Linked DNA regions of Homo sapiens: region 2 is linked to region 1. The links come from fine-mapping of genetic effects on gene expression. A gene starts in region 1. The other region holds a variant in brackets. All regions are shown on one strand. Distances are between the middles of the regions. Region 1 holds the start of TLE1 (TLE family member 1, transcriptional corepressor). Region 2 overlaps TLE1 (TLE family member 1, transcriptional corepressor).

The links. PIP is the estimated chance that this variant, and not a neighbour inherited with it, causes the effect.
Region 2: its variant is fine-mapped to the expression of TLE1 in whole blood (INTERVAL, PIP 0.90).

What each region holds. Positions count from the first base shown.
Region 1 is chr9:81,685,201-81,693,530 of GRCh38, forward strand. TLE1 (TLE family member 1, transcriptional corepressor) reads right to left here and starts at 4,347. Exons shown (of 20, transcript NM_005077.5): 1 at 3,017-4,347; 2 at 2,134-2,234; 3 at 633-696; 4 at 476-520. The coding sequence starts at 3,040. TLE1-DT (TLE1 divergent transcript) reads left to right here and starts at 4,513. Exons shown (of 4, transcript NR_109772.1): 1 at 4,513-4,759. RefSeq lists enhancers at 1-2, 3,658-4,372 and silencers at 4,245-4,594, 4,745-4,894.
Region 2 is chr9:81,652,164-81,660,493 of GRCh38, forward strand. It overlaps TLE1 (TLE family member 1, transcriptional corepressor), which reads right to left. Exons shown (of 20, transcript NM_005077.5): 5 at 1,811-1,873; 6 at 51-125. Among named protein-coding and RNA genes, the nearest start is that of TLE1, 33 kb to the right of the region's middle. The variant A/ATG (reference allele first, on the strand shown) is at 4,094.

The sequences.
Region 1 (8,330 bases):
AGCCCCAAAGCATAAAGAATACTCCACAGATAGTCATATACCTTGATTACCACGATTAAAAAAAACTCCTGAATACCCTTCTTTCCCCCCAACAGGTCCACACTTCCTTGCAAAACAGCACAAAAACATTAACTATTCTAAACTTCAGCAACTGTAGAAGATACCCAGCCCTTTCAAGAGGATAAATCTATACAGGTGAAAAAGTAAACTCAAGTCTTAATTCCTATCTGTCAATAAAGAGGCTAGTTTATATTTCCAAAACACCTCTCCCTCTCCTAGTCATTTAAACACTTGTAATTATCAAGAAGCAACCCTTGATGCAGAATACTACCATCAATCCACAGGACAGGAAACCAAGGCAGAAAAATAGCATACAAACCCCCACCCCTAGAGCCCACTACTGAGAACAAAGCCAGTATTATTAAATCATATGAACTGATGTCTCATTTCAGCTTGAAGTTCAACTAAAGCTTACCTGTTTGTGCATTTCAATGTTTAATCCATATGACATTTCATAATACTGTAAAGAGAAAAAAGAATCAAGCATTTCATTAACTCATGTTTTTTACACTCTGCTAACACGTTTGCTAATATCATATGAAAAAGGAAAAAGTCCAATCTTTGATACCTACCATCACATAGTGCCTCTGCATTTCTGTCTTTTCACTTGCCAGTTTCTCACATTCCAATTTAAGGCTAGGAAAACAAAACAGGCAACTTAATGTAAACATTATGTCACTTGTTTTAACATCTGCCTCACATATTTGCACTTCAAGTAAAAACACAGACCAATTTGGAAAAGCCATAAACTATCTAGGTAAACACCCAAAAGCTTTGTCCTTGCATTTAATAGGGAAAAGGAATAATGTGAACAATACAAGGTGTCCATTCAGCTACCATTCTTCTTGGTGCCTATCTGGTTAGATGACAAGAATGAAAAAAATCTGTCAGAACCTCTAACTGATTCCTCCTCATGGTCATCTGCTCCCTACCTTCCTGCATCAGTTTGTTTCTCTGTACTCCACCAAAATCCGGCCCTTGCACAATCTTCACTCTTAGGCATAGGCTGTGCCATCTTTGCCAACTCAAACGGTCTCTAGGTTTGAAAATCCTATCTGTTAAGTTACTCCTACAATTGCTGGTCCCTTTCAAAACCTTTGGTTTTTAAATCCCTGCCAAAATATGTCAAGTAGCTACTGCAATAAAGTGGGTTGAAGTTCTCCCTGCTGGGTAAACACGGTGTGTGCAAGTATGCCTCAAGCTGCAGAGATATTATCTACAAGTAGACAAAAGGTCAATAATGAGAAAGCCCCTGACAAAGTAAGAAAATTCACACCCAAGCCACTTCGCCTCATCTGTGTGCTTTTTCTCAAGCATGACAAAAGCAAAAAATGTCAATACAGTTATTTCTGAGTTAGAATCAGGTAAAACTTCATAGGAACAAGGGAAAGAAACTAACCTTTCTGGGAAGTTCACTATTGGCAAAGTATTTTACAAAAATTTATAAGTCCTTTGAAGGTAAGTCTCATTACTTGAAGAAACTAAGGCTGAGATGGATATAAATGTGACTCCACTCTCTCATCCTACCCAAACCAATCCGAAATGACGCCAAAGCAGGTGAGCTTTCTTCTTTATACTATTATACCCACCTCCCTCACCATCACCAATGATGGGCAATGTTATAAGCATCTAGCCTTCCTTAATGGACTTTGCCTCAGAAAACCCAATTTTCTAGTATGGCAAACAGCGATTTCAACATGGCTTTGCTTCCCTGAACCCACACTCCAGGACTGAGACATCGATTGAACCAATGTTTCAGCTCAGTCTGCTGAAAAATAAATACATGAAGTGCAAATATTGACGATTCTCATGCAACTCCTAAAGACATGAAAAAGGACTCCCTGGAACAGTGCAAACCGGCAAAAGGGAAACAATGGGAGGAGGAGGAGACAAGAGAAGAGGCGGCCCGGGAAGAACCAGGAAAGGGGGTAACTTGAATGACAGGTCTTAACTGAGACTCCACACGCCACCGCCTGGACGCAAGAACTAAGTACAGGCGCCGCCGCCACCCGGCTGGGTGCAAGGGGCACCGGGACGCCCGCGACCACTCGCATGGCGCGGCCGGACACGCACCTGTGATACTGCGCCTGCAGGAACTGGAATTCCTCTTTAATCCGGTCCAGGGACTCCGGGATAGTGAACTTGAAGGGCTGGCCTGCAGCCTGGTGCGGCGTCTGGGGGCGACCAGCGAGGGGGACCGAGGGACGGGAATGCGGGCGGATGAATAAAGCAGTAAGTCAGAGAAGGCAAGAACGGGTGGGACATAAACATAAAGTTAGAAGTGGCTGAAAACGAGGCCCCAAACTCGAGTTTGCCCTTCACTATGGGGAGGGGGAAAGCGGACCCTCCCCGGGCCCCGGCTTCTAAAGAGGCTCGGAAGCTCTTCCCAGTCTCCAGGGCGGATTGCGCTAAGTGCGCCCGGGTCACCAGGCCAAAGGGAAGGGGGCTCCCCGGCGGCCAGGGAAGACCAGGCCAGATTGTCGGTGTCGCCGCCCCTTCCCCCACGGCGGCGATAATGACCCCGGGGACCAGAGGAGAAAAACAACTCCTTTACGCTCCCCATTCCCAGAGTCGCCGGGGCCACCTCCAGACGCACCGGAACCGGGGCCGCATTGACATGTAAATAGGCGAGAGGAGAAACAAAGGGGGGGGCGCCCTGCCCCCACTCGGGGAAGGTAGAGGGGATATGGCTGCAGGAGAGAAACCCCAGCCTTCCCCAGCGCCCCTGTCCGCTCGGTATAGACGTCAAGTAGGAAGGAGCCCAAAGGGAGGGAGAAAATTAAGAGTTTCGGCCCACTCCCCACCCCAGGAAGAGAGGGCCCCAGACCTCCCCAGCCTTACACCGCTGAGGGCGAGAAGGTCCGCCGGGCCTCAGAAGCCACCAGTCTCCCTACCGCCCGGGAGAAGCGCCTCCCCAACGATCCTGGCCCCCCACCACCACCCAGCCGCGCCTCACCGGGTGCCGGCTCTGCGGGAACATCGCTCTGGCGGCGGCCGGGGCTCTGTTCCCCGGCAACTCAATTCTCCGGTCAATTTCCAACTTTAATCCCGCCGAGGAAAATTAAGCCGGAAAGCCAAGCAGAAGCGGGGAGCGCGCTGGCCACGCACGCGCGCTCCGCCGGGCGCACCGGCCACTCGGCGCCCGCAGCTGCTCCGGCTCCCGCTCCCGTCGGTGCGGGCTCCGGCCCTCAGGGCCACATTAGTGGGCGCCCCAGGCCCAGCTGCTTCAAGAACCTGCGCGGAGACGTCGGGCGCTCGGGGACTGTGCGCGGGGGCAGCGCTCCAACCCCCGGCCTCAGCTGCCCGGGCGGGGAGGCGGGGGCGCGGTGACTCCGACCGCACTCCCCTCGGCGATCCGCGTGCGCGGCGCCAGTCCTGGGCAAACAAATCCAGACGGACTGCTTTTCTTTGCTCTTCTCCTGGTCCGCCTCCTCTTCGGGCTTTCCCCGAGGCGGCGGCGGGCGAGGTGCAGGTGGCGCGGCGGCCCCCGCTAACCCCACACAAACCCGACGCTTTCGGGGCGACTCCCGCAAGATTCGGCTGCGCCTTCGGCCGGGTGCTCGCAGGCTCCCGGGACGCAAAGGGGAGCGAGGTTGAAGACGCAGCGGAGGCTCCTGGCCGGGGAGCGACGGATGACGAGGCGGGGAAAGTGCGGAGGGCGCGCCGGGAGGCGGCTCGGCACGCCCCGTGCGACCAGCACTCGGTGTTCTCCGCGGTTGCACAAACCCTCCGGGCCCGACGGGGCTACTCCACCGAGAGCAGTCCCGCAAGTGCCCAATGCTCCTCGAGCCCGGGGAGCATCAGGGCGCCGCGCCTCGGGCGCACTCGCCCTGCACGGCCGGACCGGCCGCTCCGGACCCTTCTTCCGAGCTCCTTCTTCCTCGGTCTTCTTTCTTTCCTTCCTTCACCTTCGTGTGCTTCTCCGCAAAGGGCGCTCCAGCCCACTGCAAAGTTCTCTCACCACCCGAGGGACGACATCCACGAGATGGTGGGGAAAACAGCAGGAGTGCGCTCCGCCAATCGGCCACCCTCCCCGGCGGGCAAACTCTGCGGGCGAGTCCAGAGTAGTCACAGCGGTGGGGCCAGCGGGGGTTTTGGTCGCCGCGGGACGACGGAGGTCCGGGCTGGTGGCGCGGGTCCCGCCCGGCCGTGCGAGGGTGGGGTGGCGCAGTCGGCTGCCTCCGGGACGCGGGGCACAGAGTACCCGCCGCTGTTTCTGCTGCTGCTGCTTCTGCAGCCGCCGCTCCCACCGCCGCCGCCGCCCGCGCCTCTCGCGCCGCTTACATTAACACGCGGTTTCACACTCCGGAGCTAACCAGCGCCGGCCCCGCCCAGCCCCGTTCGGGCGGGGGGCGCGAGCGCGGAGCCGGCGGGGGACGTGAGCCCGGGAGGTTGGGGGGTGGGGGGGGGGCAGAAGGCCCGCATCAGCCAATCGCGTGCGCTGCAACCAACGTGGGGCGCTGACGCGCTCCTCCCCGGAGCGTATGGCAGCGCAGCGCCGGACGGGGCGTTCTCCCTCCCCCCCTCCTCTCGCTTCCATCTCCGCCGTCTCCTCGGTCTCCCTTCCCATCCCGGCCCCTCCTCCGCCAGCCGCGTCCTCCCGGGCTTGGTGAGGAACTGTTCCTGGAGGAGCCGCGGGACGCCAAAACCAGCCAATGGGAAGCGGCGATTCGCGGAGATTGGCACTGATGATGGGAAGGTCGGTGGGAAGGAGAGCGGCGGGGCTGGGCTGTCAATCAAAGTAACGTGGGGCTGGCTAGAGAGCGCGCGGGCGCGCGCTAGCGGGAGGGACTGGCGAGCGTGCAGCCGGGGAAGCTGAGGGCTCGAGTTAGCAAAAATCCTGCCACTTGCTCACTTTTCCCTTTAATGAAAATCCTCAGATCTAAGTGAAAGTAACTCAAAGACTAGCTGCGGAGTTTCTTATTGGAGGCGGAGGGGGGCTTTTGGTAATTCGAGCAAATGTGTTTTTCAGTGCTGGACCCCTTGTTTGATGCTACTCTAAAAGTGAGGCCACATTCAAAAATTTATCTGAGGTTTGTTTTTCCTTGAGCTGCCTTTTTACGGATGTACGAGAGGGAGTGGACTGTGCACTTAGTTGGAAATGCGTAAATGAGCAACGCCACGGTTGGCGTAGGTACACCAGCAAAGACGACTGTGATGTCCTCCCACCCCACCCACCCCCTTTGCACCCAAAGTGGTAGGATTTGATTTTTATTGCAGGATTTCAAGCCACTTTTCAAAAAGATCGTCCTGTCCCGTTTGGCGGGAAGGATTCCCAGGGTGCTGCCAGAACAAGGCACGCGTGTCCGCAGATGAGACGTTTTGCCCGGGGCGCGAAATCCCAGGTCTTCGTCTTAAAAGTCCTGACTTCGCTGTGTTGGGAGAGGTGGGGAGCGGCTGAGGTTTTTAGGAACTTCTCAGCTACAAGACTACGAGTCTGTTTCCAATTCCTGGGAACAAAGAGAGACAATGTAATAAACCAGCACTGAGACCTGAAAAACCTGTCCCGCACACCCCACCCCCACAGTCTGGGTGGTACTCCTGAGCTGAGCTGTGTGAAGAGCTAAATGGGAAGAGTTAGGTAAATGACGTGGCTAAGGTTCTTATGAAGTGGAACTTGAGTTAAAAGGGATTTTGAGATTGTAATAATCAAGACATGCTGTATAATTAATGCTGAGAGTCTTTGGTTTTTGTGTATGTCTCTAAATACACAGCAGAAAACCGTCAGTATTGCCGCATTTATGCTTTTGTTTGAGGAACATTTCCACATGAGCAGTGAATGAATAATGCTGGTTTAGCCAAACGGTGGTAACTTCTTCCATAAGGGCACATCTTGGACAAGTATTTATCTTATGTTGGAAACTAGTTAAGTTTTTGGTATTAATAACCCCCACGTTATTATTTTATTATTTTACCTTCAAGAGACTTACGGGAAGGAGCTTATTTAAACAGACATACATTTTATTTAAAGATGTGCTTTTACAGAGTTCTTTTTCTTGAAATAGTTTTAGAAGTCATTTTAGATAATACATTTCACTGTTGGAGTTGTTTTTAAATATGTATGATATTGATTTGTCTATAATTGCATCACTCCCAAATATCAATTATAAATGAAAAAATAAAAAAGCGATTTTAACCAGTCTGTACGAAGCCATAGTAAATTCTTAAACAAGTTGGGCATTGTAGCTTTGTGGTGTTCTCATTAAGTACAGTTGGGAAGGCGGCTGTATTATTCATTTTGCTAACATGGAGAACAAAAAAGAAGAAAGCACTGCCTCACTTTCCTTGGTTAAATTTGGTGACGATGACAGTTTTGCTCGACATACAGGACTTTTTGGAATCATAGGATCCCAGGGCCTTTAGCAACCTGTTTTCCTTGAAATTATCTAGTGATTGAGCCACATATACCAGTCTGCGGCCAGTTCATCCCATAATCAGCTCCAGGACCGGACAGAAAGTGCTTGGATGCCACAAGTATGCTTGTATACATGCTGTGACAACTGGAGCAACTGATATTCCTCCCCGGCTTACCCAGGCTTTATGTGGTGCCTGTATCTTGAATAACTGGCACACTCCCATTAAGTTTAAACAGAGCCATTAAAATATGCTTTGAGATGGGGCAAAAGTGTTGCTACTTCTCTTCTTTCCCCACCCCGCTGCCCTCAAAATCAGTACTAAGGCATCTTTAAATGTTCTCTAACATAACTACTCACAGACAATGTGTCTGCTCACCATATTTCCCAGTTTGCCATGAGTAAACACTAGAAATTCTCTTTTAACTAGTCTTTCCTTGCCAATAGAGTTTGAAACACCAGGCCTTCTGATTTCCTTATAATGAAGTATCTGTAGTATCTACAGAGCATTATGAATTTAAAATTGGAAGGCCTTTAATTGTGTGCATAAAAATGGTTGGTTTTGGTTTTTGAAGCCTTTTTTTCCCATTTAGAGCATCGTCTGTCAGAGTGGGAGAAGGCTCTGCCCTTTTCAAGGTCATATTTTCTCCACGATTGTCATGCTGTAATAATTATACTACAAAACTCTCATCAAACTGCATTACAAATGACGGCGTTTAAACAGTCAAGTAGCTTTAATCTTATGTTTTAAATAAATAATATATGTGCAGATTGCCTACAGCCTGTTTAAAAGAAAATAGTCCTCCTCATGAAATCTATAATTTTGGTCTTCCATTTAAAGCCTGTTAACCATAATCTTCTTTACCTTTAACATTCATATGTCAATGATGTTTTTATGTGAAATGTATGATGCTCCCACTGGAAATTTTCTCTGAAAAACACAGTACCCTTTTTATGCTCTGCAGAGAAACAGAAAGATTGTCAGCTTGTTCATTTTCTTTTGATGCATATGTGGGTATATTCCCATTCATTTGTTGCTGATTATCAAATTTTCAACTCAGCAATAGCCTAAGTAATTACAAAAGCTAGATGTTATCTAGTACAGATACTAAACAAAATAGGAAAAGTTATAGATGCTGATCGTAGCAACTAGACATCTTTTAAATCTATTACTTTTTTATTTGAAATAATAATTGTAATTTTTTAATTTTTTTTGGAGACGGAGTCTCACTCTGTCTCCCAGGCTGAAGTGCAGTGGTGCCATCTCAGCTCACTGCAACCTCTGCCTCTTGGGTTCGAGATTCTCCTGCCTCAGCCTCCCCAGTAGCTGGGACTACAGGCGTGTGCCACCACACCCGGCTAATTTTTATATTTTTAGTATAGACGGGGTTTCGCCTTGTTGGCCAGGCTGGTCTCAAACTCCTGACCTCGTGATCCGCCCTCCTCAGCCTCCCAAAGTGCTGGGATTACAGGCATGCACCACCACACCTGGCCAATAATTATAGTTTTTAACAGACCACTTTTGTTGTGTTCTCTTCCTTTTAGCTGAGAATTATTGCTCATACATTTCCTCATTTGACTTTTTTTTTTTTTTTGAGTCAGCATCTCGCTCTGTCACCCAAGCTGGAGTGCAGTGGTGCGATCTCAGCTCGTTGCAACCTCCGCCTCCGAGGTTCAAGCGATTCATGTGCCTCAGTCTCCTGAGCAGCTGGGATAACAGGCGTGTACCACCACGCCCGGCTAATTTTTGTATTTTTAGCGGAGACAGGGTTTCACCATGTTGGCCAGGCTGGTCTCGAACTTCTAACATCAGGTGATCCGACCGCCTTGGCCTCCCAAAGTGCCGGGATTACAAGCGTGAGCCACCCCGCCCCACCTTTTTTTTTTTTTAATTGATAGTTTTCTTAAACCTAAGAA
Region 2 (8,330 bases), 33 kb before region 1:
TGAAAGCTGGTTATACACACTGTAGGAGGTAGACCTGGTAGGCCACGTACCCCGATGATGGCATTCAATTCTGCCATGGTCACCTGTTTGGCACGTTCAACAGCCTGGGCCACCTGTTGTTGATGCTTTGAAAACAAGGAGAAGAAAGGGCATTAGCAACAGCCAAAAACTTCACTGTATATTCTAACAACAAAAAGTCAAATGCTGTGTGCAATGCAGGCTGAAGTAGAAGGGTTTAAATGCAGAATTTCTCAACCACACTTTATTTTCACAGAACATAGATAGGGAAAGAAAAACTGAGAATGGCGCTGCCCTTTATTTCTAAACAACACCAGTCACTACTTCTGGCTGTAAATTTCGGCTTGGAATGGTAGAAAACAAAAAAGGACATAAAGAATGATAACATAGGACCTTAAAAAATAAATAGAACAGAATTTGGAAGATCACCCTTGTTCACAAAAGGGGTTCATAAGTTTACAGCAATTTTAAAATATGCATTTTACAGCCAGATGCAATGGCTCATGCCTGTAATCCCAGCACTTTGGGAGGCCAAGACAGGGTGAGCCCAGGAGTTCAAGACCAGCATGGGCAACATGGCAGAACCCTGTCTCTATTTTTAAAATAAATAAATAAAATACCCATTTTAATACCTAAAACTTTAATATTAAATCCGTTGATTGGTTGATCACTTGTCTGATCAACCAATCTTGACCCACCAGTCATTTTCGGAAACTCCTGGAATTCCTCTCATTCTTTTATAGCCTTTTGATTCTTTACCCTCCACAAGGCAAAGGAAGGACTCCAGCCTCAATTCAGAGATGGAAACTCACCCCACACCTCCCAACTCCCAACTCCACCCACAAATAAAAACAAAGCCATAAATTTACTTTGGGAGGCATGAGAATGTAACATAGAGCCGTGGATCACTAAAGTCTAACAACTACTGATATACTCAAAAGGCAGACAAATCTATTGTCATATCAGACAGACAAAGGTTATGGTGGAAGAGGCTGTTACAACAATAATGAGATGGTGACCATCCGGCATGGAGCAACAGGTGCCAACCAGGATACCCAGTATTCCAACTCCTAGTCCAATAAACTTTCCACCCTGCGTGAAGATGCATTCATCCCGTGCACACTTAGAACACGTTACAGCATTTACTAGCTTATATCCAGAAGGAAGGTAAACTTTTCAAGGCAAAGCTAAAATACAATAGTCTTGAGTCAGTTTCATAGATTACTCATATAAAGAGATTCCTCCCTCAAAGAATGTTAAGATTAAACCTCTATGACTTTGTAACTAAACAAAATAGCTTATACATACATATGACTCATTAAGTTAATGTATTTTGGACTATTATCATCCACCCCTTCAAGGACAGCATTAAGACAACTGCCTTGATACATAAGTACAAAAGAACTATCTGCCTCCATAGTAAAGTCTACCTTGATGGAACCATTTTTAAAAGTCAGTATGAGAACAGCTTTCTATTTAAAAGATATAAAAGACACCTGAATTTTCAGTAGCTCTCAAGCTTATGCTACTTAAAGCAAAAGCTGTACATTGGATAGTCATTTTGCAGTTTTCCACAGGAAAAAAAATTAATTTGGGGGTTGAGCTATTGTCACCATTTCTACAGTGTGCCCTCAGATGTGTTGGATAGACTAGCAGGGGGTTTACACACTTCAGCTGTAACAGATGTTCTTCACACTTGTTCCTTGTGATAAAATTAACATCTTAAAACTAGCTAATTTGCAAACAGAGAAGCAACATAATTGCACTTTAACAGCTGAACAATTTTACTTACTTCCTGAGACAGAAATGGGATGACTTGTGCACAAATCGTATTCAATCTCTTGGCGATTTCAGTCTATAAAGACAAAGCCACACAAATGTTTAGAATACTTCACAATCAGTTCAGAAAGGTAAAACTTCATACCCCTAACACTTCAGTCCTCCTCTCCCTTGCTCTGGAAATGTGTATAAAATGGTTTCCCCAGGTTATGTTACTAATACTTATCTTGAAATAAACAGTAGATATTAATCCCACTTGCAAAGTAAGCCACAACTGCACACTTCATTGTAATAAGAGATGAGTAGTTTGATTGAGTTGGAAAATCTAGGCGGTTTAAGGCTATATGATCATTTAATATGGTGACTATATATATATACACATATATATATGTATTTTTGAGACAGAGTCTTGCTCTGTCGCCCAGGCTGGAGTGCAGTGGCACGATCTCGGCTCACCACAAGCTCTGCCTCCCGGGTTCACACCCTTCTCCTGCCTCAGCCTCCCAAGTAGCTGGGACTACAGGCGCCCGCCACCACTCCCGGCTAATTTTTTTCTATTTTTAGTAGAGGTGGGGTTTCACCGTGTTAGCCAGGATGGTCTCGATCTCCTGACCTCGTGATCCGCCCGCCTCGGCCTCCCAAAGTGCTGGGATTACAGGCGTGAGCCACTGCACCCAGCCAAGTGTACTTTTTCAATGATGGCACACCATGACACATTTATGTCATTATTGCAAGTTCATTCAAGCGGGTGTCAGAAGCCACTGCAGCTGCAGCACTGTCAAAGCAGTCCACCTTTCAAAGATGAGGCCTAAGGTGATAGAGTAGAAGAAAGGCCTGCTGACCTCTTTGCCACTTGTCCCAGCTCTTGTACAACTGAAAAAGGATTTTATTGTTCATAGCTTCCCTAAGTCTCAAACTTTCAAACAAACCAAGAAAACATGACTAAAAACATTCCAGTCTAGAGGGTGATGGTCAAGTCATGATATCCTGAGTATTCGGAAAGTTTCGCCACAGTTCAGTAACAAACTCAAAGACCTCACCGACAGGGCCCAGGGGTCAGCTGAACATAATAAAAGGTGTCCTTAGTGTCTATAGCACGGGCTGTTTTAAAGAAGGCAGGAAAGGCCGGGTGCGGTGGCTCGCGCCTGTAATCCCAGCACTTTCTGAGGCCAAGGCATGTGGATTATGAGGTCAGGAGTTCAAGACCAGCCTAGCCAAGATGGTGAAACCCCGTCTCTACTCAAAATACAAAAATTAGCCGGGCGTGATGGTGGGCGCCTGTAATACCAGCTACTCGGGAGGCTGCGGCAGAGAACTGCTTGAACGAGGGAGGTGCAGGCTGCAGTGAGCCGAGATCACGCCACTGCACTCCAGCCTGTGCGACAGTGAGACTCCACCTCAAAAAATAAAAAAAATAAAGAAGGCTGGAAAAACCTTTGCTCCGCTCCACATCCACAGCAGTCCCTCTGCTACAAGGGACAAAAACTGGCAAGAGAGGGAACAGAGGGTACTCTACTTCTAGCCCAGGGAAGGGTCCACCTGCAGCACCTCCAACACCCTACAGCAATGCAAAGCAGCTCTGCTTTCCTCTACCTAGGAAGAACCAGTTCTGCTTTTTTAAAAAAGAAAAAAAAAGTCATCTGTAAAGAGGCCCATCCTTGACCTTACTTATTTCATCATTTTGTCAATGCTTACTAAATGCCACCTATATTACTGAATTAAGCAATGAAAAGGATCACAAGAAAAAAACTTAAAAGCACGCAGTCCATGACCTTGAGAAATAGAGAATGGAAAAAGACAAAGTAGAAATCCCAGGAACAAAGTCGAGCCTGCGGTGAGCTGAGATCGCGCCACTATACTCCAGCCAAGGCGACAGAGCAAGACCCTGTCTCAAAAAAAAAAAAAAAAAGAAAAGAAAAGAACAAAACCCCAGGAACTTTACAATCAAGCATATAAAAAACAGCAGCCTTGTATCTTCTAAGATGATCTGAATTAACTAAGCAAAGTCTTTGGTTTTATAAGATTGGATTTAGTCTGACCCAACCCAATTCTCCCTGACCACCAATGAGACAAGGTTACAGACAGACCATGCCTTGGACAAAATGTACTAGAAGGGGAAATGACTGGTAGAGAGAGGAAGCCCGTGCATGACCTTGCTTTAGCCAGCGAGGCAGATATATGCAAAAAGGGTGCAGCTGTACCAGGTACAAAAACAGAACTGGGTCAGCCCCACCCAGTTCATTTGATCACAGCCACCCACTCAAGCTACCTCAAGGTCATGGCTCTCCTCGAAAGC[A/ATG]TGGGCAAGGCTTTCCTTTGCAACAGGGTTCTGCACTGTCTATTTGAGTGCATGTAAAGGAGTAGAGATGCCTTTGGTAGGTATCCTACTTAGGTCCTTGCTCCCAACTCCCTACCTACCACACATTCCTGCAACACTCTGTACATTCCTCTTCTCGGAAATTCACATTGAAGGTTTCCAGTTTTAAAAATGATATATGCTCACTTTGAACTCATACACATGCACACAGATACATATACAGAAATATAAAAGAAAGTTAAAATAACCCTGAGCCCATCATCCAAGGATAAGCATGGGTAACATATTGGTGATTTTAGGATACCATCATTCCAGGTTCTCACTTATGTGCACAGAAGCCCAGAGTGAGAGACACATTTTAATACCAAGGGGTTTCCGTTACATACCCTGCCTTTCTATAATTTGTTAATCAAACATGTGTCAGGGACACCATCCCAGTCAATACAGATTAACAAGTACCTTGAAACATTCCACCATACAAGCATATAGATGTCTAAGTACTATTGACACCAGTGAATATTTATGTTTCATTTAATTTTGCACAATTAACAACTCTGTCAAATACGCCTCCACACAGATCTCTAAAAGGAATCCCTAGATGTGAAACTGCTGGGTCAAAGTGTATGCATATTTTAAGTTGCAATGCATGCTGCCAAACTGCCCAGCAGAAAAGCTGTACCAATTATTGCGAGTTTAGGAGGGTTCCTGCTCTCCCACCCAGTGTCAATATTGAGTTTTGTTGACCTTCCTTTAATCTTCATCCATCTAATGGATTAAAAAATGACCTCATTTTTATTTGCATTACTTGAATTCTTCCTCTAGTTAAACATCTTTTCATGTATTTATTGCTCCACTCTATGTTTCCTTTCTCCATTCTTCCATTGTTGCTTAATCATTTTTGTCCTTTGGTGGTGCTTCCTTGAATGGGACAAATATTAACCCTTTATCAGAGTTTGCTCAGCTTGCCACTTGTCTTTCAACCTTGCTTAATATGATTTTTTTGCTGTATAGAACTTTAAGTCTTTATGTGGTCAAATGAAAGCATTTTCTTCCTATGCTCCTGGCCTTTAGGTAAAGATTAGAACACATCAATATCATAAAAGCCATTCTTACTTTTCTTCTAGTGTGCTATGGCTGCACTTTTTATGCTTAACTATTTAACTGGAATTTATTTTGGTTTAAGAAAAGATGCCCTCATCTTTAACTATGATAGCAACTATGTGTTACTACCTAGAATGGCATCAAAGTAGACTTGAACATGGTCGGAGGACAGTTAAGATCCAGTCTGAATGAAATGAACTTGTAAACCTTTAATAATATTAAAGTTATCAAAAATAAAATAAAGAAAAGAAAGACATATGAAAGCAAAGGCAATGAATACAGTGGTCTCTCGGTATCTGTGAGGGATTGGTTCAGAATCCCCCATGGAAACCAAAATCTAAGGATGCTCAAGTCCTTTATATAAAATGGTGTATTTGCATATAACCTATGCACATCTACCCATACACTTTAAATCATCTCCAGATTACTTAAAATACCTAATACAATGTAAATCCTAGGTAAATGGTTGTTGTATTATTTAGGAAATAATGACAAGAAAAAAGTCTGTACATGTTCACTACAGACATAATTTTTTTTTTTTTTTTTTTTTTTAAGACAGAGTCTCGCTCTGTCACCTAGGCTGGAGTGCAGTGGCACAGTCTTGGCTCACTGCAACCTCCACCTCCCGGGTTCTAAGGAACTCTCCTGCCTCAGCCTCCCAAGTAGCTGGGATTACAGGCACGTGCCACCATGCCCGGCTAATTTTTTGTATTTTTAGTAAAGACGGGGTTTCACCATGTAGAACAGGCTGATTTTAAACTCCTGACCTCAAGTGATCCACCTGCCTCAGCCTCCCAAAGTGCTAGGATTTATAATCCTAGCATGAGCCACTGTGCCTGGCCGATGCAATGTTTTTTAAAAAAAAGTATTTTCAAACCATGGTTAGCTGAATTCACAGATGCAGAACCCACAGATACAAAGGGCCGACTGTACTATGTAAGTTGGGTTAGACTGGATAAGCCTGAAACAGGAGGAGAAAAGTTAGAAATCAAAGCTCAAACTGATGAAAAACATCGAAAGCCATACCATATGTCCTGGAAATTCTACATAAATGGTCTGGAGAAGAAGCAAATAGGAGCAATAGAGGAGAGTCTTACCCAAGACTTCCCCTCCGTCTGCCAGGTCTCTAAACCCTAATCTTAAACTATACTGACAAGCCAGCTTGACTTTTGAGCCAGAAAATCTAAATCCAAGTCTTGGACTGTTCTATTAACAAGCTGGTTTACCCCAGAAAAGGCGCTGACGTCCTCTGAAATACCCTGGCTCCTTCACCTGCACAACCTACCTCCTGGCAGGTGAGGGTACACAGCTTACCCAACAATGCTCTGTGAGTCCTAAAACATCACTAGCTCTCCAAGAGGACTTCATGAACATCTTCCCTTCAAATAGTCTGGATTGCAGCAGCATACAAACTGGCAATAATTCTTAGTATTATCTCTTGCTTCAACAAAAGGGTATTCTGGTAAGATTCTTAATTTAGCACAAATTAACAAGTCTCGTAGTGACTTTATTTTATTTATGTATTTATTTATCTATTTATTTATTTTTTTTTTAGATGGAGTCTTGCTCTGTCACCAGGCTGGAGTACAGTGGAGCCATCTTAGCTCACTGCAACCTCCGACTCCCTGGTTAAAGCAATTCTCCTTCCTCAGCCTCGCGAGTAGCTGGGATGACAGGCACGCGCCACCACACCTGGCTAATTTTTCTATTTTTAGTAGAGATGGGGTTTCACCATGTTGGCCAGGATGGTCTCGATCTCCTGATCCTCGTGATCCGCCCACCTCAGCCTCCCAAAGTGGTGGGATTACAGGCGTGAGCCACCGCGCCTGGCCTCTCGTAGTGACTCCTGCCCATGCTTCTATTCTTGATTGGAGTGTGCTGGCAGGTTAACCTGGGTATTTGACCCTGCTGCCTTCCACCTCTTGCAAAGGCTAGACAACTCCAGTGAAAAACTGAGGGCTAACTGTATTTCCCACCTAGAAATAATTTTCCTACCCAATGATGAATACCTATTTGGTACCCACTAAGTCATAATGCTTATAAACTTTCCCTGTGCCTAGATTTTTTAATACTGTGTAAGGCAACAACAATAAATCTGCATTCAAGAGCTATCCACAAACCAAATCTGCATGAAACCCTCCACTCAGAAATGTAAGCAGCAGGATGAAGGCTCCAGCAACAAGACTTTCTTCATGGATGGCCACCACCTACTGAGGCAGGAGGAAGCAGGAGTCCAAATTACCTGTCTACAACAGTCTTTCATTCTCCTTACCTATGCCAACTCTCCTCACTGATTTGCATATGGTAATACAGTTAGCCCTCATCATCCAAAAATTAGGGTTTGCATCTTGGCAAACTACTGCTAGGGGTTCTATGTTAAATCACTTAAACCACTGGGTCCCAACCAGGTCTCGTACTTAACAGGATTACCACCAATCTACTTGAGAGTTTCATCAAAATCGAGTGAGCTGATGAGCTGGTATGTAAGGTATACTATTCCAAAGTGCTGTACAAATATGAGAGATCTTCCCAATCCCTCAAGGCCTGCCTCAAATTCACTGAGAAGCTGCCTTTCCCCCATAACGCCAATAAACGCACTCTTCTCTAGGCCCTTCAAGATCCTCCACAGCACTTACTGTCATTTGGTAAACTAAACCTATGTGCTTAAAAATCACCATGTCATACAAAGAAAGCTTCCATACAGTTTCTTAACAGCTTTCTACCTAAAAGCCTTCTCAACACAACAAGATGGGAAGCATTACGAGAACACGACTCCTACTAAATACTGTGACACATTTCTTTGCCGTACCTCCCCTACTAAAACTGATGCCAGGGTACATATTTAATATACTTTCAAAGTCATGCCTCAATGAACCAAAACTTAATCTCCATGCACCCCTAAATTCAATGGCCAAGGTGCAACCAGATAAACCATTACTAAACAGTGCTAGACAAAGGCTGTTCACAAAAAAAAAAAAACAAAATCATACGTTGGTAAGTATAAAATTCATGTACATGTATGGTTTTATTTTTTTATTTTATTATTATTATTTTTTGAGACAGAGTCTCGTTCTGTCGCCCAAGCTGGAGAGCAGTGGCGCGATCTCGGCTCACTGCA